Homo sapiens: one gene and its partners. The protein of the gene in region 1 purifies or fractionates together with the protein of each later gene. This does not show direct contact. Each region holds a gene or a part of one and is shown in the gene's direction. Other genes may lie near its edges. The genes, in order: RAC2, CLCC1, SPCS2, ELMO2, DDX50, TLN2 and AKAP1.

Region 1 (2,500 bases):
GGCGTGGGAGGGGTGTATGGCGTGGGAGGAGTGTATGGCGTGGGAGGGGTGTATGGCGTGGGAGGGAGGGTGTATGGCGTGGGAGGGGTGTATGGCGTGGGAGGGTGTATGGCGTGGGAGGGGTATATGGCGTGGGAGGGGTGTATGGCGTGGGAGGGGTGTATGGCGTGGGAGGCGTGGGAGGGGTGTATGGCATGGGAGGGTGTATGGCGTGGGAGGGGTGTATGGCGTGGGAGGAGTGTATGGCGTGGGAGGGGTGTATGGCGTGGGAGGGAGGGTGTATGGCGTGGGAGGGGTGTATGGCGTGGGAGGGGTGTATGGCACGGGAGGGTGTATGGCGTGGGAGGGGTGTATGGCGTGGGAGGGGTGTATGGCGTGGAAGGGGTTGTATGGCATAGGAGACATGTTGGCCCAGAACCCCCCCCGCCACTTAGGCCTTGGCTCTCCTGTCCATCTCCCCAACCAGACTCGGTGAAATACCTGGAGTGCTCAGCTCTCACCCAGAGAGGCCTGAAAACCGTGTTCGACGAGGCCATCCGGGCCGTGCTGTGCCCTCAGCCCACGCGGCAGCAGAAGCGCGCCTGCAGCCTCCTCTAGGGGTAAGAGTCCCCCACTCTAGTGCCCAACTCCCATACACAGCAGGCCCTGGCTGAGCAGTGGCCTTTGGTTCACTGTGAGTGGCATTTAGGCCAGGACAGAAAGAAGGTGGGTATGGAGGTTGCCTCAGTTTCCGCAGCCTACTTGTCATCTGCCTGGGCCAGTCTCACTCTCTGGAGCTCATCTTCCAGAGGCAAGGCCCAAGGTATGAATGAATGCCTGGTAACCCCCCACCCCCGGGCCAGGGAGTGGGTGTCACGGAGCCCCACTCTGCCCATTCCTGCAGGAGGTGATGGAAAAGATGCCTTGGTCCCTGGCCCTAGGAGAGCCCAGTCGAGCCAGGGAGATCCTGCACCCACATATGTGGGTGGAGGTGGGAGAGCCTGAGCTATGATCCCCAGGGGGCAGATGGTGGGGTCAGTGAGTTGGAGGCAGCCCACAAGGCCTCCTGGAGGTGTGGGACCAGAAGGACAGAGAGGACTGGTGAGGTGGGGAGAGCAGCATTGGCAGTCCTGGTGGGAGTCAAACCTTGAGCAAAGACCTGGAGGTGGGAATGAGCTGTGAGCCAGGAAGGCGAGAGCTGTGGATTCTGCATGTCCCCAAATTCTCTTTCCCTGCTTATCTTCCTTCCAGGTTGCACCCCAGCGCTCCCACCTAGATGGGTCTGATCCTCCAGGATCCCCACCCAAAGCCTGATGGCACCCCGGCTGGCCATGCTGTCCCCTCCCTGTGGCGTTTCTTAGCAGATGGCTGCAGAGCTTCGTTGATGGTCTTTTCTGTACTGGAGGCCTCCTGAGGCCAGGAACGTGCAAATTTGCAGGTGCTGCATCCCAAGCCCCTCATGCTCCTGCCTTCCTGAGGGCCAGAGGGGAGCCCCAGGACCCATTAAGCCACCCCCGTGTTCCTGCCGTCAGTGCCAACTGCCGCATGTGGAAGCATCTACCCGTTCACTCCAGTCCCACCCCACGCCTGACTCCCCTCTGGAAACTGCAGGCCAGATGGTTGCTGCCACAACTTGTGTACCTTCAGGGATGGGGCTCTTACTCCCTCCTGAGGCCAGCTGCTCTAATATCGATGGTCCTGCTTGCCAGAGAGTTCCTCTACCCAGCAAAAATGAGTGTCTCAGAAGTGTGCTCCTCTGGCCTCAGTTCTCCTCTTTTGGAACAACATAAAACAAATTTAATTTTCTACGCCTCTGGGGATATCTGCTCAGCCAATGGAAAATCTGGGTTCAACCAGCCCCTGCCATTTCTTAAGACTTTCTGCTGCACTCACAGGATCCTGAGCTGCACTTACCTGTGAGAGTCTTCAAACTTTTAAACCTTGCCAGTCAGGACTTTTGCTATTGCAAATAGAAAACCCAACTCAACCTGCTTAAGCAGAAAATAAATTTATTGATTCAAGTTTGGAGATATCGTGATTTCAGGTGCAGCTTGATCAAGGTATTCAAATGATGTCATCGAGGCTTGTTTAGCTCTGGGCTCTGCCTTCTGCTGGCTGGTTCATTCTCAGGCAGGCGACTTAGGGCTTCATCCTCCCAAGTTCAAGTTCAGGGTTTCATCCTTCCAAGTTCAAGTTCAGGGCCTCATCCTTCCAAGTTCAAGTTCAGCCAAAAAGAGCAAATGTCTATCCCAGGCAAAGTTCTAACTAAGATTTACTGTGATTGGACCAGCTTAGGTCCTGGGCCCCCTTTTAACCAATCATATTTGTCAGAGTGGTGCAGTGCTGTGCTCTGACTGGCCAGGCATGGACCATATGCCATGCTGGAACAGAACTGCGGCAACCCCAGCGAAAGCGTGTGTACTGGGGGGGAGGGTGAGTTCCAAAGTGGGCTGAGAGCCTGGCGGGAATTTGGGAATTTGGGCGAGAAACCCTCAACCTCCACTACTGGAGGTCATGGGAA
Region 2 (3,500 bases), on another chromosome or scaffold:
AATACAAAAAATTAGCCGGGCGTGGTGGCGGGCGCCTGTAGTCCCAGCTACTCGGGAGGCTGAGGCAGGAGAACGGGGTGAACCTGGGAGGCGGAGCTTGCAGTGAGCCGAGATCGCACCACTGTACTCCAGCCTGGGCGACAGAGCAAGATTCCGTCTCAAAAAAAAAAAAAAATTATACATATATGTATATTTATATATCTATCTATATATATTTATATTTATATATCTGTCTATATTTATATATTTATTATATATAATATATATTTATATATTATATATTTATATTTATATATATATATGCACTGTCAGTATTTAGCAAGATTTATATTAAATCTTAGTATTAATATTAGTAATACTGGTTAGTATTAAATATTAGCACTGTCAATATTTAGCAAGATTTACAGAAAAAAAGGCAATGCTAAAATTATTGGGCTTCTTTGATGTTGTAAATCAGGCTAAGTCACGCTTAATGAGAAGGCGATTTTTAAGTGATACAGATTTTTTTCCTCCCCTCTGCCCCTCTAAATGATACAGACATATTATACTTACTTGTATATTTTTATAATCAAGAAAGTAGTTCTCTAGTTTGATTGCATATGTCATAGCAGTGATTTAGAATAATAACCTCTTTTTAAATGTGTTAACCTTGGTAAATTAATACACAGGAAATAGGAAGTTGATTTCTGTCTCCCAGAAAGGGGGACTTCTTATTTCTAGTCAGTTTTTGCAGCAGTGAGAAGGGTAGAGCATTGAGTTTGACACAGAACCAGAAAGGGATGTGGAAGAACATGGGTATGCTGAGAAAGAGTTTGGGGATCCAGGAGCAGACATTAAGAAGAAATATTACTCGTCATCCCTCCATGGTCTATTCAGTGTTTTTTGTTATCGATTTTTTAGCTATTACCCAAGTAAAGCAGTTGTCGCATAAAACAAAAAGAACTCAGATGTGCCAAGGGAAATTCTCTTCCCTAAGGATACAAGATTCACTATCTCTGTTCACTTTGAAATCGTTTCTTTTTTGGTTTTGTTTTTTGGCTTGTGATTACAGGATTATGTGGTTGACGGGTATTTTTTTGTTAGGTGACATTAGTTCTATAGTCATAGTTTAGTCTCTGAAACTGAAATTATCAGCAGAGTCTTCACCATCTGTTTTTGTTTCATGTGCTCCCTCAGGAAAGTTATGCTCTTTGACTTTTGCTGCTTTTGTCTTCAAATAGTAGTGTTTGAAAAACTAGTACAGAAATTTTCAAAGTTTCTGTTCTCAGGACCTCTTTGCAGTCTTAAAAATTGAAGCCCACAAACAGCTCTTACTTAAGGTGATTATATTTATTGATACTTACATATTAGGAGTTAAAACAAATTTAAAACATACGAGTACTGTACACGCAAGCATGCATCCCCTGAGTCTGAGTGAGGCTGTCACTCTAGCATCTGGAATGCTCCGTTGTATATTCAGGAGGGGACAGTGAAAAAGACAAATAATAATGTCTTTGTATTATGAAAAGTTTTGATCTCATAGATCTCCTGAAAGTCTCAGGTATCCCCCGGGGGTCCCTGGGCCACACTGTAAGGAACTGCTGCCTACTTTTTCCCATGGAATGTGAATCAAAACCTGTTGAATTTTAGCTGTAACTTAAGCCTAGTTTATATTTGTAAAAAGAAAATGTACAGAAGATTGTTTACATAATGATATACAACTTTAAATATTTTCAGCATTTACCTTATATGATGGGCATGAATCTAGAAACATGAATAATTATCAGACTAGAACCTTCTAATTTAAATATCTAGGCTTCAGCCTGCCATTGTTATAGTTCAATCGAAATGTGTCTAGCTGATTAAAATGTCTACTGAAAGATTTATTAAGTTTTATTGGCCACTCTGGCCTTGTATTAATCTAAAGAGGTCTCTAATGAAAAAAAGTCAAATTAACATGTTTATGTCTATAAATGCCACAAGTAAGTTAAATTACATAACTTTGTTAGCACTCTGAATAAAATGCCTCATAACTTTTGTAAGTTAGCCATTGAGTCCTCAGGAAAATGTATTTCTTTTCCTTACAGAGTTTCTGCTATGGTGCTGGAAAATCAGTTCATGTGCTGAGACATATAGGCGGTCCTGAGAGCGAACCTCCCCAGGCACTTCGGCCACGGGATAGAAGACGGCAGGAGGAAATTGATTATAGACCTGATGGTGGAGCAGGTGATGCCGATTTCCATTATAGGGGCCAAATGGGCCCCACTGAGCAAGGCCCTTATGCCAAAACGTATGAGGGTAGAAGAGAGATTTTGAGAGAGAGAGATGTTGACTTGAGATTTCAGACTGGCAACAAGAGCCCTGAAGTGCTCCGGGCATTTGATGTACCAGACGCAGAGGCACGAGAGCATCCCACGGTGGTACCCAGTGTAAGTCAGCAACTCTTTTATTCTGCTGTCCCTTCATTACTGGTTCTAAATCCTTCTGGAAGAGGTCTGATTGTTTTTACTCTTTTACCCCTCACCCTTAATTATATCATGAGTGATACAGCCACTCACTCTCTCCCCTTTCTGGTCAAAAGTTAGTTCAGCTTCCTCAGAAGAAATAAAATTAGATTTAACTTTTATGTAAAATACAATTTAACAGTAGTTTGTTAGAGCAGATGGTAATTCATATGAACCTTCATGGGAAGCCAGCGTATGAGCATGACAGAAATTTCTATCTTTGAAGAGATCAGAGAGAAGGCATCACTGAAGGCCCGGAGCTCTAGGGAAGGTACAGTAGAGCCCTAAAGGATTAGCTGGATGGAAGAGTGGGCTGGGGCCAGGGATCAAAAACATTGCTTCCCCAAATCTTCAGTGTCATTGGCTGGCTAGACTATACTTTTTACCTGTAGAATGGTAAGAAGAAGTTTTTCACCATTATCAGTCTTTTAAAGGGACATTTCCATTTCTGTTTGAGAGAGGAATTTGTATTGTCATTTGAAATGTTTAAATTGCAGCTGTTAAACCTTTGAAACAGTTATGAGCATAATAGAATCTGGGAAATTATAGAATCCCTTCCCATAGTTTCATATAAAAATAAACATATCTACATGTATCTAGAAAGATGGACCAGGCGCGGCGGCTCACGCCTGTGATCCCAGCACTGGGAGGCCGAGGCAGGCGGATCACTGGAGGTCTGCAGTTCAAGACCAGCCTGGCCAACGTGGCAAAGCCCCATCTCTACTGAAAATACAAGAAAATTAGCCAGGCGTGATGTGGTATGCACCTGTAATCCCAGCTACTTGGGAGGCTGAGACAGGAGAATTGCTTGATTCCAGGGGGCGGAGGTTGCAGTGAGCCGAGATCGTGCCATTGCACTCCAGCCTGGGTGACAGAGTGAGACGTCGTCTCAAAAAAAAAAAAAAAAAAAAAAAAACAACTTAAGATGGTCCTTCCAGCTTTTATAGTTAGTAATTACCTGTCACCTATCTCAGAAGTCTTCCAGTGACTTCCTATCTCACTTGAGGGGAAAGCCAG
Region 3 (3,500 bases), on another chromosome or scaffold:
ACTCAGGTCTTTTATATCACTGCATAACTTCTGTTTTCACTGTGATTAAAATAAGATAATTGAAGGTGTTCATGTGTCATACTCAAAACAATTTTGTTTTGCTGGACATATCCTAATGACCAAGGATTTTGTCCTTTTGTTTTTTGAGATGGATTCTCACTCTATTGTCCAGGCTGGAGTGCAGTGGCACAATCACGGCTCACTGCAGCCTATACCTCCTGAGCTCAAGCCATCTTCCTGCCTCTGTCTCCCAAGTAGCTGGGACTTTAGGTGGGCACCACCACACCTGGCTAATTTTTTAAATTACATTTTTTTGTAGATACGGAGGAGTCTTGCTATGTTGCCCAGGCTGATCTCAGACTCCTGAACTCAAGCGATCCTTCCACCTTGGCCTCCCAAAGTGCTGAAGTTATAAACATGTTGCCACTGTGCCTGGCTTATTTTGTCTCTTTTTTTGATCCCACCCTATCCCTTTGAGTGTGGTGAGATGCATGGGAACAGAAGGCTGTATTCCCTCAAATGAGTTAATTTGGAAAATGCCTTCCTGTACTGACTACATATCCTTCAGACCTGAGTTGTGTTTAATATCCTTCCTAAGCACTTATGGAGTTCCTGATGCCATACCTTCAGTGAAGTGTCTTTGTAGAATTTTTTATTATTCAAATGTGCAGTGGAGAAACGTAACTGAAATGATTCTTCATAATGTTCTATTAAAGCTATCAAATGCCTGTTTTCTTTGAACTGGTTAGCCAGCCAGCTCTGGCATCAGGTGTGTTAGTCTGACAAAAGTTGTCTTTATCTTGGCCGGGTGTGGTGGCACTTTGGGAGGCTGAGGTACGTGGATCACTTGAGGCCAGGAGTTCGAGACTAGCCTGGCCAACATGGTGAAACCCCATCTCTATTAAAAAATACAAAAATTAGCTGACTGTGATGACACTTGTCTGTAATCCCAGCTACTCGGGAGGCTGAGGCATGAGAATTGCTTGAACCCAGGAGGCGGAGGTTACAGTGAGCTGAGATCGCGCCACTGCGCTCAGCCTGGGTGACAGAGTAAGACTCTGTCTCAAAAAAAAGTTGTCTTTATCTCTTCAGTGGGTGGTGTAGGGGAGTAATTTCTTTAAGATAGTACTTTTTGAGCTCTGTTTTCAGCCAAATTGCAGTTGGTTTTACATTGGGGGGGGAGGTTCAACATTTTTGATACCCTGTGAGTTTTGTGGTCCTATTCAAGATTAACATCTTTTTTTTTTTTTTAGGTTTTTAAAATGTTATTACTAGAGCTTGTTAGGAATCAAGATACAATGTATAGCTGTCACTTCAGGGATCTCTTTGTTTCCTGTTCTTTGTGTTTTTGATGGCTAATAATTCCTTTCCTTGCACTTCATGGGAAAGCAGTGTAGAATAATGAGAGAGCATGGGTTTTGAGTCCTGGCTTTACCACTTTCTGCCTTTCACCTTTGGCAGGTTTTTTAAACCCTTAGTGTTATCTGTAAAAGGAGGATTTTAACTGTTCTTACCTTGTAGAGTTATTGTGGAAATTAAGTGAGATAGTGTATATAAAATACTTAGCACATCCGTAGCACATGTTAGGCATTCAGGAAATGGTAGCTATGATTATACCTTCTGTCTGCCCTCCATCCCTTAAAGAAATTCTGTGAATAAGAACCAAGTGAGATCATTTTGACCATGTTTACATTTGCTAAATTTAAACTGGAGAGTAACATTTTAGAGATCTTTTTCTTCCCTTTTTTTCTTTATAAGGATTTAGACATTAAAAAAAAAAAAAAGCTATTGAGAGTATATTGTGTTCCAGGCTCTGAGAATACAAAAGTGTATAGTCCCTGTGACCCAGTGAGGGAGACAATACATACAGTCAGGTAACCATGATGCAGTGTATTATATAGTTTTATATCATTAATAGCAACAGCAATAGCTAATTTTTATGAAGTACTTGCTAGGTACCAGGCACTGTGCACTGTGCTATGTTTTATAATTACACTATTTACTTCTCATACCAACCTGTGAAATAGATACTTTCACCATCTTAATTTTACAATTTAGCAAACTAATAAGGCTTTAGAGAGGTTAAATTATTTGCCCAGTGCCTTCCAGTATTAAGTGGAAAAGTGAGGATTAAAATAAAGTAGCCTGACTCCATTCTCCCTTGGATAATAAGGATTCACCTTATTGGGTAAGGAAAAAAAGCATTTGCCTACATACATTTGTATTTAGTCTAAATCCAGTCAGCTTGTTTTTTGTTGTTGTTGTTGTTTGTTTGTTTGTTTGTTTGTTTTTTGAGATGGAGTCTTCCTCTGTTCACCCAGGCTAGAGTGCAATGGCACCATCTCGGCTCACTGCAACCTCTGCCTCCTGGATTCAAGTGATCTCTTGCCTCAGCCTCCCAAGTAGCTGGGATTACTTAGCCTGGCTAAGTTTTGTACTTTTAGTAGAGATGGGGTTTCACAATGTTGGCCAGGCTGGTCTCGGACTCCTAACCTCAAATGATCCATCTGCCTCAGCCTCCCAAAGTGCTGGGATTATAGGTGTGAGCCACTGCACCTGACCAGAACCAATCAGCTTGTGATTTGAAGTACAGTACACCTTTAAGAATAAGGCCACAATCTGCTTTGGGATTGAGTTCAGGGATTAAGGCAAATAAAAATAAGTTTATATCACTGAAGAAGAGACAGTTTTATAATGAGCCATGTATTTGTAATTTAGCCCTAAAGAATTTTGTTGGCCTGTCATTTACTATTTGTATGGCACTTAACATCTTTGAACTCTAGTTTTCTAATCTGAAGGACATTGGTTTCTGGATTGAGGGTCTGCTTAGTGCTGCAATAAAAAGATGAGTGGCAATAGCAGTTTTACAGTGGGTGAAAATTGACCTGTGTAAGGGATATCATCTTGAAATTTTAGATACTGGCAACATAAAGAACTTTTTCTAGATTTCCAGAAGGAAAGGTGTTCAACATAAATCACATCATTTATACAAACAGTTGAGGCACAGTGAGCCATTCTTATCACTGAGGGAATGTATTTATATCAGTGTAGGGATTTGTTTTATCAGCCAGCTTGTCAGATACCAGCCAAGGGCCAACCTTGCAAACAAGCCTTGCTAAAGATGGCAGTCTTGGACCCAGGTTCACTTATTTCTGCACACTGCCCTTCTTTTTAATTTATCCTGTGAGGTCCCACATAAAAGAAACTAATTTTTGCTTTCTCTTTTTATTATTACAAAAGGAAAGCAATTTGCAATTAGTGTTGAGGAAGACAAAATTGAGGCAAAAAAAAAAAAAAGATAGCTTTTAAAATACCCGAATTAGTAGTAGAGAGAACATGAGGAGCAGCATACATTTTAGTTGATGAGCAGTTTTTGAGCATGATGAGAAGTAATAATCAGAAAAAGAAGCACCTAATAGCAACTCCCCTTCTTCCAGATGGTTCTCCATACTGTAGTAGAGACATTACTTGCTTCGAAATGGGCTGTGTTGCCGTAAAGT
Region 4 (3,066 bases), on another chromosome or scaffold:
CTGTCACACTCTGGATTGTTTATCTGTGAGCTGGGCTCTCCACATTACTCTTCAGCAGCAGCCATAGGTTGTCATTACAAAGATAAGGTCAACTAGGAATGAGTCATTTACCTGGGACTGGGAAAATTCTCCCCTTTTCAGTTTCTCTGTGGTCAGCTACCCAAGAGAACTTGACAGATCCTTCCTCCTAGGGGCTCCTGGTCACATGTTGTAATGGATCCAGTGTGGACTTTGAAGCCAGATGGAACTGGTCCTTCTGACAAGGGCCCTGTAGTTCCATCTGCAGCACTGGAAGATACTAGATATTAAATGAGTGATTGCATTTGAGACCCTATGTGCCTGGTGAGCTCTGAGAGCCATCACTGGGAACTAGAGGTGGGACTTCTGGCAGAGGAGACACTTGGGCAGGGCCTGAGCTGCCGCTAGTGGAATTTGGTTGAGAGGAAATGAAGAACAAGCAAGTGGGGAACCAGGTGAGCAACGGTGTGGAAAAAGGAAAATGGCAGCAGAGGAAGCAGGAAGAGTCAGGGAGCGGTGGGATCAGAAGGCTTCCTGGTCACCCCCTCTTAGCATGAGACCCACCAGTTCCATTTCTTTAGTATTTACTCTTTAATATGTATTGACTGGATTATTTTTAATTTTGTTTTCGGGGGGGCGGGGCACAAAATTGAGATCCCACAGTGACTTCTGTTTGTGTCTTGCTTCTTTTCACCTAATACATATTTCCCTTCTCTCGCTTCTGATTTTGGGTAACTTCAGGTAGATGATGCCCCAGTACTCAGATCTCATTTTGCTGTATTCGTTTATTGCATTTTTAGGTTCTCCTTCATATTATTGTAAGGAGTTGTAATATAAAACCCCTTATAAAAACCAGATCTCTTGAGAAAGTGAAGGATCACCTCCTAATTTATCTTTGCTATCATTCCAAATCAGTTTTGCCTATACTGATTAGTTCCAAAAGGAACTGTTGTGAGCCCCATCAGAAAAGAGACCTTGGCAGGATCTCCTGCTGACCAGGGGTCACGATGTGACATTTTGCAACTTGCTCCCCACAGTACTGCATCTGGATTGATGGCCTCAGTGCCCTTCTGGGGAAGGACATGTCCAGTGAGCTGACCAAGAGTGACCTGGACACCCTGCTGAGCATGGAGATGAAGCTGCGGCTCCTGGACCTGGAGAACATCCAGATTCCCGAAGCCCCACCCCCCATCCCCAAGGAGCCCAGCAGCTATGACTTTGTCTATCACTATGGCTGAGCCTGGAGCCAGAAACGACGGTACCCAGGAGAAGGGATTTTGGGCCCAGGAGAAACACTTACATTCTGGTGCCTTGTCTTTTGCTTGTACAGAATCTGTAGTGATTTTGGTGGCCAGTAAATGCCAGCCATTTCTCAAACCCACCTCGGACCACCCAGAGTTTCCTCTTGGTCCCTGTCTACTAAGAGTCATGAAGGCAGGGTGCTCTGCCCACTCCATCACCATGAAGCCTGGGATTGGGCCACGAGGAACAAACAGCAGATGCCCTTGCCTTCCAGTCCAAGAAACTGCTTCTTGAAATGGATTTAACAACAGCCACTCACCTTTTCCTCCTGAGCCTGCTCTCTGATCAGCTGGATCCCCACGTGAGCAACAGCTGGCCCAGGAAAGGCTGCCTGCAGAGGACAGGTGTGTTGGGCGTGTTGAGAGCCTTGAAGTGACTACCTGTATCTTAGATCTGAGTACAAGCCTGAGGCTTTTGCTTTTGTCTTTTTTGATGAGGGCTCACTCCAGCTTCATATGGTGCCAAGACGTTGCTGCTTCTGAGGTTGGCTCTAACATCTCTGGTCTTTAGAGCCACCAGATCTCTCTGGCCCATACAGATATCAGAGCAGACGGAAATTTCTCCCTGCAAGCGCTCAGTCTCATCCCAGCAAGTCAAAGACCTCCTGGCCAAGTCCTGCCCTCTTAAGTCTCCAGGAACGCTGCAGGGAAAACCCAGCTGAGGCCTGGGCCTAGACTGTGGTGAGGTCACTAGATTCTACTGCTCTTCCCCCACATTAATACCTTTTCCTTCCTCAGAGAGAAATCTCCCCTAACCTGAATTGCAGCCCCCTCCAGTTTGCTTTCCTTTGGCCTTCCAGACCCCAGGAAGTTGGCCTTCCCTTCCTAGTGCTATGGTTTCTGCCATTGGCCATGATTTCAGGGAGCTGGCTGAGGCCGGCTGAGGCCACACCTGTGCCAGTGGGGCTTCCCTGGTGCTGCAGCACTTGTAAACCACACACACAGCCTCTCTCCCTGGACATACGTTAGCACATTGGCATTCAGTATTGGTGGCCTGGCATGGTAGGTACTACCCAATGAAGAGTGTACTATATATTTTCATTACTATAGGCCATACTTATACAGACGTGTATATATATTTATATAAGATCTACCTATCTTAGGATGGAACCTTGGGGAAAAATAAAATTGAGGGGAAGTAAAAAGTATGTAACACTTCCAGTTGTGAGCCAAGATTGTAACCAGAGAGCAGCCAGGAGCTTCCTGTCAGTAACCATGTTTTCAATAAATACTCTTTCATGTACAAACTGTGGTTCCTGTTAACAGCTGTTTGTCTGTACTTGCCCCCTGCCCAATGGTGAAGATTTCACCTTGACAAGACTTGATCTCCATGTATCTGGGAGACTCTGGAGAGCTCCAGCTGGAGCCCTTAGTCACCTTCCAAGAGTCCCTTCCTCCTCATCATTCGCTCCTCCCACACATACACACACACAGACACACACCTGCTGGTTAAGAGTGTTCACAGATTGCTGCACTGGGACGAAGCGTTTTCTGCTCAACCCTGCTGGGTACAGCAAGGTAAGGCATACTGTACACCCCCATGAACACATCCTCCCTCTTCTCCCTGCCAGGGACACAGCCAGGGAACAGCTCGAGTACTTGTGCCTTACAAAGAAGACACGCTCTTTACCCTGTGTGTTGCCTGTGCATAGTGCCCAGCCTTCCAGCTGGTGTTTTAGGCTGTTGCTCCAAACCTTGGCCTTGGTAGCTGGGAGACTTAAATGAGGGTGGTGATGAAAATAGATCT
Region 5 (3,500 bases), on another chromosome or scaffold:
AACAAAACTGAAGTGAATAGTGGTCTGGTATTGAGGTGAGGATAACTTTGGTTCGGACGTGTTGAGATATGGAGCTGGTGCTTAGATTCTTAGAGTTGGAATGTAGGTGAGGAAGGGAGTCTGGAAGTACGTATTGAGCCATGAAAATAGTACTAAAAGTGAACATAGAGAACAGATACTCAAGGAGCATCCACTGGAGGAGGAAGGAGAGGAACCATTGAAGAAGATATGTGGTAGAGGTAAGAAGATAGAGGTAAGAAGGGAATATAAAGTGTAACTGAAACCAAGTAGACGGAGAGTGCCAAGCATTGTGGGTCTAAAGTGGAATTATTTATTTAATCACCTTGAGATGTTACTGGGCTTAGACCGAGAGGTCTCCTTTTGCCTTGCTTCAACTTCTCTCTGTAGTGCAGGGCCCAGAAGCAATTCAAGCCCCAAGGCTGAATCGATAAATAATCTTATTTTTCTGTAGAACCTATTGGTTTGGAAAGATGTGGTCTAGTGTAGTTAACTGCAGATCATATGATGTAATGTGTAACTGCAAAGCATTTTCACACATATTGTTCAATTCTCACAGCAATTCCAATTTTATGGATGAGAAAATTATATGTGAAATAACTCTAAAAGTTGTGTAAGTTATGGTGAACATTTTGGTGGTAGTAGTTTTTACTATCACTAATTACTGCTATCTATTTTGAATATTTGACCAGGTAATTCATTTTTTTGAGAGTGGCCGAGATTACAGGCGTGTACCACAACATGCAGCTAACTTTTGTATTTTTGTAGAGACGGGGTTTCCCCATGTTGGCCAGGCTGGTCTTGAACTCCTGACCTCAGGTGATCCGCCCAACCTCGCCCCCCCAGAGTGCTGGGATTATAGGCGTGAACCACCACGGCTAGCCACCAGGCTAAAGTCCTAAATTCCCAAATCATTTATTGTGTTCTGTAAATATCACAACACTGGCCACTAGTTTGAGATTTTAAAATTGAAGTTGAAAAATAGTGTTTTTTAAAAAAATTAACTGAATTTAAAACGTAAAAAAAAAAAAAAAATCCAGGATTACTGTCCTTCCGTGGAAGTATAACAATTGGACTTCTATATGAATTATATAGTTTCTTTTTGTTTTCCTTTAGCCTGTGAATTGTCAAAGTGCAGGGAGGAAGCATAATGTGAAAAGAGAATGGGCTTTCAAGTCAGGCAGTGCTAGATTCAGTTTCTAGTACTTATAGCTGCAGGAAATCCCACATGTGGATCTTTGGCAAGTTGCTTAACCTCTTACAACTTCTGTTTCCTTGTCTATAAAATGGCAAAGGTGGCTGGGCACAGTGGCTCACGCCTGTAATCCCACCACTTTGGGAGGCCGAGGCTGGTGGATCACCTGAGGTCAGGAGTTTGAGACCAGTCTGGCCAACAGGGTGAAACCTCGTTTCTACTAAAAATACAAAAATTTAGCTGGGCATGGTGGCGTATGCCTGTAGTCCCAGCTACTTGGAAGACTGAGGCAGGAGAATCACTTGAACCCGGGAGGCGGAGGCTGTAGTGAGCCAAGATTGCGCCACTGCACTCCAGCCTGGGTGACAGAGCAAAACTCTATCTCAAAAATAAATAAATAATTAAATAAAATGGCAAAGGTAATACAGGTTCACTATCCCTTATCCAAAATCCTTGGAACTAGTTGTATTTTGGAATTCAGAATTCTGGGGATTTTTAGAAAGGTAGCACCCCGGTAGGGTTTGGGGCCTGAAACCTGTAATCAAACACCTTAATATTAAATATGAGTGGTCATACTAAGCAGGATAAATGAAGACTATAAAGAGCCTCACGTTAGTTCAAGTTAAATTTTGCCATCAAATGAGTTCAGGTAAGGTTTTGCCTCCAAATAAGTTACAAAAAAAACTTTCGGTTTTCAGAGCTTTATGGATATCGCAATTTCGGATAAGGGATTATGGACCTGTACTTCCCTTATAGGGTTGTTATGAAGATTTAAACAAGATAAGCTGAAAACACATTACACAGTGCTGGGTAGGTATTCAATAAGTATTAATTTTTTTTTCTCTTGGAAATGTTGGAAGTTTTTGCTTGTTTAGTAATTTATAATTCTGGGGTTGTCTTTCTTTCCCTGAGGAGAAACCGTTTTAATTTTCCTTAAATCTTATGATGGGATTAGAGAGGGGCTAGAGGCTGAGTCTTGAGAATGCTAGGAAGGGGATGAGAAAGATAGCAACAGTTGAGGCTTAGAGCTTGGCATTAGTAAGCAGTCTGGATTTCTACCAGGCAGGTTTTCAAAGTAACTGTAGATTGAGCTGAACTGGTGGGGGAGTCATGCTCTAACTTCTCTAGAGTCTTAAAAGAAAACCTCTGACCATCTTGTCATTGCTTCTTTGTTTGTTCACAGAGTGACAGAAGGAAGTCAAGGCACCATTATGACTCGGATGAGAAATCAGAAACAAGAGAAAATGGTGTTACAGATGACCTGGATGCTCCCAAGGCCAAAAAATCTAAAATGAAAGAGAAGCTAAATGGAGACACTGAAGAAGGATTTAATAGACTTTCAGATGAATTCTCCAAATCTCATAAGTCAAGAAGAAAAGATCTACCAAATGGAGATATAGATGAATATGAAAAAAAATCAAAGCGAGTATCATCTTTAGATACTTCTACTCATAAATCAAGTGATAATAAACTAGAGGAGGTATGGAAGCTTTTTATTTTGCATTTGACATTGTTGTTGAACTATAGGTTGATTTGAATTTTTTTAGGCTAATTAGAATTGATTCTATAACATTTCTTGATTAGTGTCTAGTATTCTTAGTTGCACTAGAGTCTGTACAGGTGAAGCCTGAGCCTTTTTTCCTTTGGCCCTTGTTTATTTCACTGTATGGCCTTTTTCTTGGGGCGAGGTGGGAGCAATAGTTAAATTTAAACCTTTTCTGTACATTTGGGTTCCTAAAGTTATTCGGAATTGCTTGATGGTTATCTACTTGAATTTCTTTTCTTTTTTCTTTTTTTTTTTTTTTTGAGTCAGAGTCTCTCTCTGTTTCTCAGGCTGGACTGGAATGGCACAATCTCAGCTCATGGCAACCTCTGCCTCCCGGGTTGAAGCGATTCTCCTGAGTCAGCCTCTCAAGTAGCTGGGATTACGGGCACGCACCACCATGCCTGGCAAATTTTTGTATTTTTAGTAGAGACGGTGTTTCTCCATGTTGATCAGGCTGGTCTTGAACTCCTGACCTCAAAGTGATCCACCTGTCTCGGCTTCCCAAATTGCTGGGATTACAGGCATGAGCCACCACACTGGGCTGATAATTAGTAATTCTTTATATTATATAAATACGATAATTGCTGATATTCATATACATTTGAGCTTAATGCATAATCTTTGGGGAAAAGTGTTGAATCCTTGTGTTATGGCCTTTTTTTTTTTAATTTGTGAATTTGCTGTTTGGCAGGAAGCACATGTGTTTGTTGATCTAAATAAGGTCCTTTAAATCTGTATTTC
Region 6 (3,500 bases), on another chromosome or scaffold:
AAAAGCTTTTCCTGCCTCTCCCTGCTTTAGCAGATTATTTTCATTGTGTGTGAATGTCAACCCTGCTTCCTAATGTTTGTTTCTATTCAGATGTGCAAAGGAAGCAGGTTCAGGTTCAGGGTGACAGTCCTACAGAGCCTTTGTTAGCAGGGACAGGCCAGACTTGAATGTTTTCAATTGTTTAGCTCTCTAGGTAAAGACCAGGGCAGTAAGGTGATCCTGCAACCTCCTCCAGTTATGGGTAACTGACATTGGATTTCTTACTCTATTCTTCTGATTCTTGAGATCATATCTCAGAGCTTTTCTTGATTTCTTAATGTACTGCATGTTCCCATAGTTAACAAAGATTTATTTTACACTGGCTATATAATAGTGGTCTTGTTGAAAATTTTGACAAAGGCCTTGTCAGCAGCTATAGCTGTAGTATCACATTCTTTTTCTGACTGTATTTTTTTGGACAAAATTAATAAGAGGAACAGGATTTCTTTAAACAATTCTAACAAAGTCCTTTAGAACAATCATGATTCTATGTGACCAAATCCTGGCCCCCCATCTGAAAAGATGAATTCATATCAAGTGAGGGAATACTATGACCTACTTTGGAAAGTTATTTTTAAAAATCTTTTTAATAATTTGTGACATTCAAGCTGTGTTTTCACTGAGCATTGAGATAGATGTCCAGGAATTGTAACTTTGCCATAGTGGGAGCAATTCCTAAAAGTTGTGTGGTAGACAAGTGCCAGTCAGATCCCAAAGGGATCTTCTGCTTTCAGCACCATGGGCTTTAATTATACCTTGGATAGCCAGGAAACATCACAGACCTGAGAAAGACTGGAATAACCTGCTCCTTTAAGACCACTTAGTTTTTGTCCATTTTAAAATCAGCTTACTTGATAGATTCATGGGTTTCTGGTTTAGCTGGATTGTATCTAGTCTTTGTTCTATGTAAAATTGTGCAGGCTGAATATTATTTCCAATGTATCTTCTCATAAAATATCTCACTGTAAAGACGCTGTGGGTGCCCTTTACATTTAGAATCAAATGTGCTCTTTATCATCTGATGAATTAATAAAGACTTCTGACCGTATTTCCTTGAAGGGAAAAGCCTTGACGTGTTTGTTCCAAATAAAAATGGCTCATATGTTTGGGAAGGCATTTCCAAGTCAAATAAACTACTTTCAGTATTAAAAGCAAAGAAGTAAATTAATTGTAACCATGGTTCTTCTTCAGGTCAGACAGATGGGTGACAAATCTGGTAGGCTCAATCAAAGGATTCTTCTTTCTGCAGGCAGAATGCCTAGTCATTGAGTTGAAGCATAAACTAGCTCCTCGCATTTTCAGTCAGACCATCTTATAGCTAGTGTATTTATATAGGCTCTCTTTCTGCTTTCTGTAATAATTTAATTCCTACCCAGAAGGCTGCAGAACACTGAGAATAACTCATGTTCAGAGCATTTCTTGGCTCTTGAGCTATAGGTATTGGTGCCAGCTATGTGTCTGTGCACATCAAATGTTGCCCTCTGGAGGTAGAGATATGGCTAAATTTCTGATGACGACTTGGATCTTTGTGCAAAGTAGAAATCCAAAAGATACATTTTCAAGTTGCAGTGGGGCATGATGACTGGAGGCCATGAATTATAACCTTCTTATGGCACATGATGTTGTGGCATCTGGATATGTTTTCAGCTTCTCCTGATCTACCATATCAGCCACTCATTCAAGAGACGTGGTCAAGACTTCGTGTTAGATAAGTGCATGAATGGGAATCAGTGGTTAAAATAATGACCCTTCCCTCAAATTAACTATTTTAGATTTAAACCTATGCTACTTAATGGATGTAAGAGACTGAGTTATTAGGATACAAGTCTCCTTTTTTAATTACTTCTAAGGATAAGTTGACATTTCAAAAAAAAGTAAAAAAACTTCTAAAGTACTGAAGGAAAAAGATCAAATGGAATTTTAATAACGTTTATTTTCAGGCTGTGAAAGGTGATTAGAGAAAAATAAATGAATAGTCTTTGATTCCCTTTTCTTAGGATGTTTTAATGAGTTTGGCCAAAGCTGTTGCCAATGCAGCTGCCATGTTGGTACTAAAGGCAAAGAATGTTGCCCAAGTGGCCGAAGACACTGTCCTACAGAACAGGGTAATTGCTGCTGCCACCCAGTGTGCCCTCTCCACCTCCCAGCTTGTGGCATGTGCCAAGGTAAGCCAGCTGGCACCCCAGCCCTTTCTACCCAGTATCACCTGCTGTTACCTGCCTCCAGGCATTTGGTGTGTAGCAGGGGCAGAATTTGTTTAAATAGTCCGAGATTTAGAGCTTCCTTAAAGTGTCTTAAGTGATGATAGGATTTTAGCATAAGCGGTCAAATTCTGCTTTTATCATTTGTTCTTTGCCCAAGTCCTCAGGCCGTTGGTACTTTTCACTAGTTCATTTCTATATGCAAATTGCTGTGTCTCCCCTTTGGACTTCTCAGTGCATCTTTACACCTGCACAAAAATAGTTCTTGCAATGCGTGGTACAGCATTACAAATGGGTTCAGAAATAATCCACAGAGTTTATGGGAACCCTTTCTAGGCTGCACAGGGTCCGAGTGGGGATTTTAATTGTTGCCAGGGTATACACACTCAGTGTGTCATACATCACCTCATTACATCTCCCCGGTAATCCTGCAAATTAAGCACCATTATCTCTAGTTTACTGATGAGGAATCTGAGGCCCTTAGATGTCAGTAGGTTAAGGCCACAGAAGTAGTAAGTGGCAGAACTAGAGTTACAACTCAAGTCCATCTGCCTCCAAATACGCTTTCCCCTCTACTTCATGTGTCCTCTCGGTGATGATGCAGCAGAAGATGGGAAATGTCCGTTTCTGGAATTGATGGCCTGTCATGTTGTATAGATCTGTGATCTGGCTCAGCTTGGCATCAATAGCCTGTGGTAAGATTTGCAGCATCGTCTCCCTCAAGCTTTCATTGTCCACGCTGCTAGAATTTACAAGGAACTGACAGAACCCCCCTGTTCTTTAAAGGACTATGAGGCAGAGTTTCAGGTGTTTCTGGGAATAGAAATAGAATTCTTTTAGGTAGTCTTTGTATCCCAACTCAAAAGACTCAATTCAAAGGATCCTAAAATGAAGGAGGTATAATTGGGAAATCTCAGAAATTTCTCTGTATGGAAGTAGGGCAGTAGTATGGACTGTCACATGTGACTAATGAAGTTATAAATTAGTGGGACATGTCAAATCACAAGGATGAAGTAGAATAGCAGAGCGTGTGAGACTGAAGCAATGGTTTCATTGAATGAAATGGTCAGGTAAGTAAGAAACCGAGCAGTGGTCCTGTAAGTAAGAAACCGAGGCCCAGAGCAGGAAGGGCTTTGATGGGACTGCGGGGGCACATGGAGAGGGACCAGGATTCAACCACAGTGCCCAAAACCTGTTCCTGTCTCACTTCAGGTTGTGAGCCCCACTATTAGCTCCCCTGTGTGCCAGGAGCAGCTGATT
Region 7 (3,500 bases), on another chromosome or scaffold:
GGCCTCTGCTGGTCGGTTCTGCTATGGGACTGTGTTCTGGGGACAGGGCTTAGGTGGTGATAGCGCTGGCAGGAAACCAGAGGCCTCTTGGTCCCCACATGGGAGGACTACTTTTCCTGGCTCTCCCCCTGGGCACCTTTTAAGTTTTCTAGGCGTTTGCTTAGAAAGGATGGTGTAGTTCGGACAGGAGATTGGGTGTGTCCAGGGTCGCCGTTCACCACCTGAGACCTGGGTGGGACTAGAATCATGGGTTTGGATGGCGCTTGTTCTTTCTTCTGGTTGAGTCAGGCCTTAACAGTGGCCCTGGTGAAGGATCTCCTTCCCCTTCCCCTCCCCAGGAGGTGCCTAAATTACAAAGAAGAATGAATACTCCCCACCAGGCCCGGAAGTCCAGTGACTCTTGGGAGGTTGCCCCAGGAGTTTGGCAGAGGGAAGAGCTGCTATCTCCAGGGCCCCTGTGTGCTGCTGACTGCAGGGTCTCTCAGGGCCGTGGCCCATATCCTGCCGTGTGCCTCTGGCCCTGGTTGGGTCTTATCTCACTGGGAGTAGAATTGCAGAATTCTGTGGGCCAACGACTGTTGACTACGTTTTACACAGATGGACAGATGGGCTGACTATAGCTCCAAGGAAATTGTCCTCCTTCGTGTTTTTTTTTTGTTTTTTTGTTTTTTTATGGATGGTAGGCATTTCAGTTTTGTGTCTTCCCCTTTGCAAAGGCCCTTGGGCTGGAGGGAAAGGATTGGGATATCTTTTTCCTGTGGATATGTGAGAGTAGGCTGAATACCACTTTATGCTTTACTCCTGAATCAAGAGTTTTTTCCCAGGAGGCTCGGTCGTAGACTCACTCTCTTTTTTTTTTTTTTTTTTTTTTTTTTGAGACAGAGTCTCACTCTGTTGCCCAGTCTGGAGTGTAGTGGCATGATCTTGGCTCACTGCAACCTCTGCCCACCAGGTTCAAACGATTATCCTGCCCCAGCCTCCTGAGTAGCTGGGATTACAGGTGTGCTCCACCATGCCCAGCTAATTTGTATGTTTTTAGTAGAGATGGGATTTCACCATGTTTGCCAGGCTGGTCTTGAACTCCTGACCTCAGGAGGGTAAGCAGTAGGAGGGAGAGCAAATAGGAAGCAGACTCTGCTAGACCTTGACCATGGACCTGACCTGAGGCCACTGCTTGCTCTTGGGAGGGCAGCGTAGATGCTGTCAGACCATAGGCTCCTGGGGTTGTCTGCCAGTCCACAGGAGTTGGCTAAAGGGCCTGGGGCCTGCCTACTGCTTATTTTCAGGAGTCTTGTTCTCAGCGGCCACCTCATTCCTGTGTTGCCCTCCCTGGGTCTTATAGATTCATCAACAGAAGTGGGAGGGAGGGCACTGCTGGTAGGTGGACCCTGCCCAGGCCTGTGCAAGGCCCAGCACTACCTCCGCAGTTGCTTCTTGGTTGCCCAGTGTCTGTGGGACCCTCCCTGCCTGGCCCTGAGGTGAGACTGCCCCTAATGGCTGCTCGTGGTATTGCAGGACAACAGCCACAGGGGTGTCGAACACTTTCTGTTGTTAAAGTAGTCCTTCAACCTCTACCTTCTGGGTGCCATGTTGTCTTGAGTTGCCCTTTTCAAAGATATGCTAGCCCAGAGACTTGCCCTTGGGTCTCGGGACTTATTCAAAGATGAGATAAGAAGGATTGTTTCAGTGACCGCTCCCCCTTCCCCTCTACAGCTCATGCTGCCTGATGGCATCACCGTGGAGGTCATTGTGGTCAACCAGGTCAATGCCGGGCACCTGTTCGTGCAGCAGCACACACACCCTACCTTCCACGCGCTGCGCAGCCTCGACCAGCAGATGTACCTCTGTTACTCTCAGCCTGGAATCCCCACCTTGCCCACCCCAGTGGAAAGTAAGCAGTGCCCTGAGGGGTCGGGAAGGGGGACCCCTGGGGTTGCCTGTTCTGCCCTGGATCCTGATCAGGAGGAGGCTGTTCTGCGATCCTTCATGGAAGCAGCATCCTTCAATTCTTGCCATTGTTATGGAGCTGGGGTGGGTTTCCTGGCAAGGCAGAGCTGGGGTTTCCACTGGCTGGCAGAGTGATGGGTGTTGGAGTAGAGTTTTGACACAGGGATTCAGATCCCAGCTCTGCCACTAATTTTTTTTTTTAATTTTTTCTTTTTTTTTTCCCTCAAAGCCAGTGTCATAGTATCTGCCACCTATTTATTATCTGTTAAAGGGGGTGATACCCACTTGTTCCAGGAATTAGTGTTGAATACTGTATGTATTACATATAAAGCACTTATGCATATAATGGTTACCACAAAAAAATCCCCAAGTCCAACAAGCCTGTGCAGCGTGTTGGGTCATCTCCATTTAACAGATGAGAAAACTGGGCCTCAGGTGACTTGCCCAAGTGAGCAGGATCTGGGGTCTGAGCCCAGCCTTTGTCATTATTATCTTTGTTGTCCTTATCACAGAGGATGGAATGTCAGAACATCACCCATTCCTCACCAGGGGATGGCAGGGTCACTCAGTGCAGTAGAAAACCTTCTGAAGTGATCTCTGTAGCCTTTTGTGTGGATTTTTTCCTTTTGGAAGGATAAGGACTTAGTTTTCATTGGCTTCTCTAAAGTTGCCTTAACCCAGCAGTAAAGACTGAACTGGAGCCTGAGGGGTAACTGCCAGGGGTTCTCTCCAAGGGTCAGGACCCAGCACAGTCAGCCTCATGTCACAGGTCCTCATCCTGGCCAGCGTGGGCAGCTGTTGGGGTGCTGCTGGGAACGTTTACCTCCTGGTCTCGTCTGCCTCTGACCCACAGTGGGTTAGTGACTCCTTGATCCTGGGTGGCTGCCCAGGTGCTGTCAGCACCTTCCAGAGGCAAAGGCTAGAAGAAGGGGGTTTAGGCCCAGGAGGCCCCTTCTGGTCAAGCTCTCCAGCTGAGTTGTGGGCTGGAGCACACCCTAGGTATGAGGATGCTGAGATCTGCTGCACTTGATTTCTTCAGGGACTTTCTTTTAAATGTAAGGCTGGCCCTGGCCCCCATTCCCCGAGTGCTATATTTACTTGGTTTATTCCTATTCATCTGTGTCCCTCTTGGGTCCCAGAAGTTTTGGAGTAATGGATCTAGACTGAATGCTTCTCAGTCTGGATGGCCTCGGGGGCGGCACACTTGCTAGGCTGAACTTCTCACATCCAGGTTTTTCCCTCGGCTGGTCTTGGGCTTGGGGGAGGCTTTGCTTGGGGCCGGTTGCTGTTCCTGTCCCCTGCACTGTGGAGGTTGCAGGCCTCTGAGAGGTAACGCAGGGAGGTGGGTAGTGGCCAGGTGGCCCTTGGTGCCCTGCCCTGGCCCAGGCGTTCCACGCACTCTGCTCCCTACCCTGCAGTAACGGTCATCTGTGCCGCCCCTGGTGCGGACGGGGCCTGGTGGCGAGCCCAAGTGGTTGCCTCCTACGAGGAGACCAACGAAGTGGAGATTCGATACGTGGACTACGGCGGATATAAGAGGGTGAAAGTAGACG

Evidence for each region.
Region 2: the proteins of RAC2 (region 1) and CLCC1 purify together in Homo sapiens (affinity purification with mass spectrometry, with the first as the bait; one study listed by BioGRID). This does not show direct contact.
Region 3: the proteins of RAC2 (region 1) and SPCS2 purify together in Homo sapiens (affinity purification with mass spectrometry, with the first as the bait; one study listed by BioGRID). This does not show direct contact.
Region 4: the proteins of RAC2 (region 1) and ELMO2 purify together in Homo sapiens (affinity purification with mass spectrometry; 2 studies listed by BioGRID and IntAct, with this or other methods). This does not show direct contact.
Region 5: the proteins of RAC2 (region 1) and DDX50 purify together in Homo sapiens (affinity purification with mass spectrometry, with the first as the bait; one study listed by BioGRID). This does not show direct contact.
Region 6: the proteins of RAC2 (region 1) and TLN2 purify together in Homo sapiens (affinity purification with mass spectrometry, with the first as the bait; one study listed by BioGRID). This does not show direct contact.
Region 7: the proteins of RAC2 (region 1) and AKAP1 purify together in Homo sapiens (affinity purification with mass spectrometry, with the first as the bait; one study listed by BioGRID). This does not show direct contact.

The regions. Positions count from the first base shown.
Region 1 is NC_000022.11:37,224,770-37,227,269, reverse strand, and holds the end of RAC2 (ras-related C3 botulinum toxin substrate 2), read left to right. Parts: intron 1-466; coding exon 467-597; 3' UTR 598-599; intron 600-1,230; 3' UTR 1,231-2,000; downstream 2,001-2,500. UniProt on the Homo sapiens protein: Plasma membrane-associated small GTPase which cycles between an active GTP-bound and inactive GDP-bound state.
Region 2 is NC_000001.11:108,935,985-108,939,484, reverse strand, and holds part of CLCC1 (chloride channel CLIC-like protein 1 isoform 1 precursor), read left to right. Parts: intron 1-1,176; exon of another isoform or gene 1,177-1,319; intron 1,320-2,066; coding exon 2,067-2,408; intron 2,409-3,500. UniProt on the Homo sapiens protein: Anion-selective channel with Ca(2+)-dependent and voltage-independent gating. Permeable to small monovalent anions with selectivity for bromide > chloride > nitrate > fluoride.
Region 3 is NC_000011.10:74,959,266-74,962,765, forward strand, and holds part of SPCS2 (signal peptidase complex subunit 2), read left to right. Parts: intron 1-3,500. UniProt on the Homo sapiens protein: Component of the signal peptidase complex (SPC) which catalyzes the cleavage of N-terminal signal sequences from nascent proteins as they are translocated into the lumen of the endoplasmic reticulum.
Region 4 is NC_000020.11:46,365,550-46,368,615, reverse strand, and holds the end of ELMO2 (engulfment and cell motility protein 2), read left to right. Parts: intron 1-1,055; coding exon 1,056-1,256; 3' UTR 1,257-2,566; downstream 2,567-3,066. UniProt on the Homo sapiens protein: Involved in cytoskeletal rearrangements required for phagocytosis of apoptotic cells and cell motility. Acts in association with DOCK1 and CRK. Was initially proposed to be required in complex with DOCK1 to activate Rac Rho small GTPases.
Region 5 is NC_000010.11:68,904,315-68,907,814, forward strand, and holds part of DDX50 (ATP-dependent RNA helicase DDX50), read left to right. Parts: intron 1-1,955; exon of another isoform or gene 1,956-2,023; intron 2,024-2,396; coding exon 2,397-2,693; intron 2,694-3,500. UniProt on the Homo sapiens protein: ATP-dependent RNA helicase that may play a role in various aspects of RNA metabolism including pre-mRNA splicing or ribosomal RNA production.
Region 6 is NC_000015.10:62,705,050-62,708,549, forward strand, and holds part of TLN2 (talin-2), read left to right. Parts: intron 1-2,036; coding exon 2,037-2,204; intron 2,205-3,452; coding exon 3,453-3,500. UniProt on the Homo sapiens protein: As a major component of focal adhesion plaques that links integrin to the actin cytoskeleton, may play an important role in cell adhesion. Recruits PIP5K1C to focal adhesion plaques and strongly activates its kinase activity.
Region 7 is NC_000017.11:57,112,746-57,116,245, forward strand, and holds part of AKAP1 (A-kinase anchor protein 1, mitochondrial precursor), read left to right. Parts: intron 1-1,713; coding exon 1,714-1,891; intron 1,892-3,365; coding exon 3,366-3,500.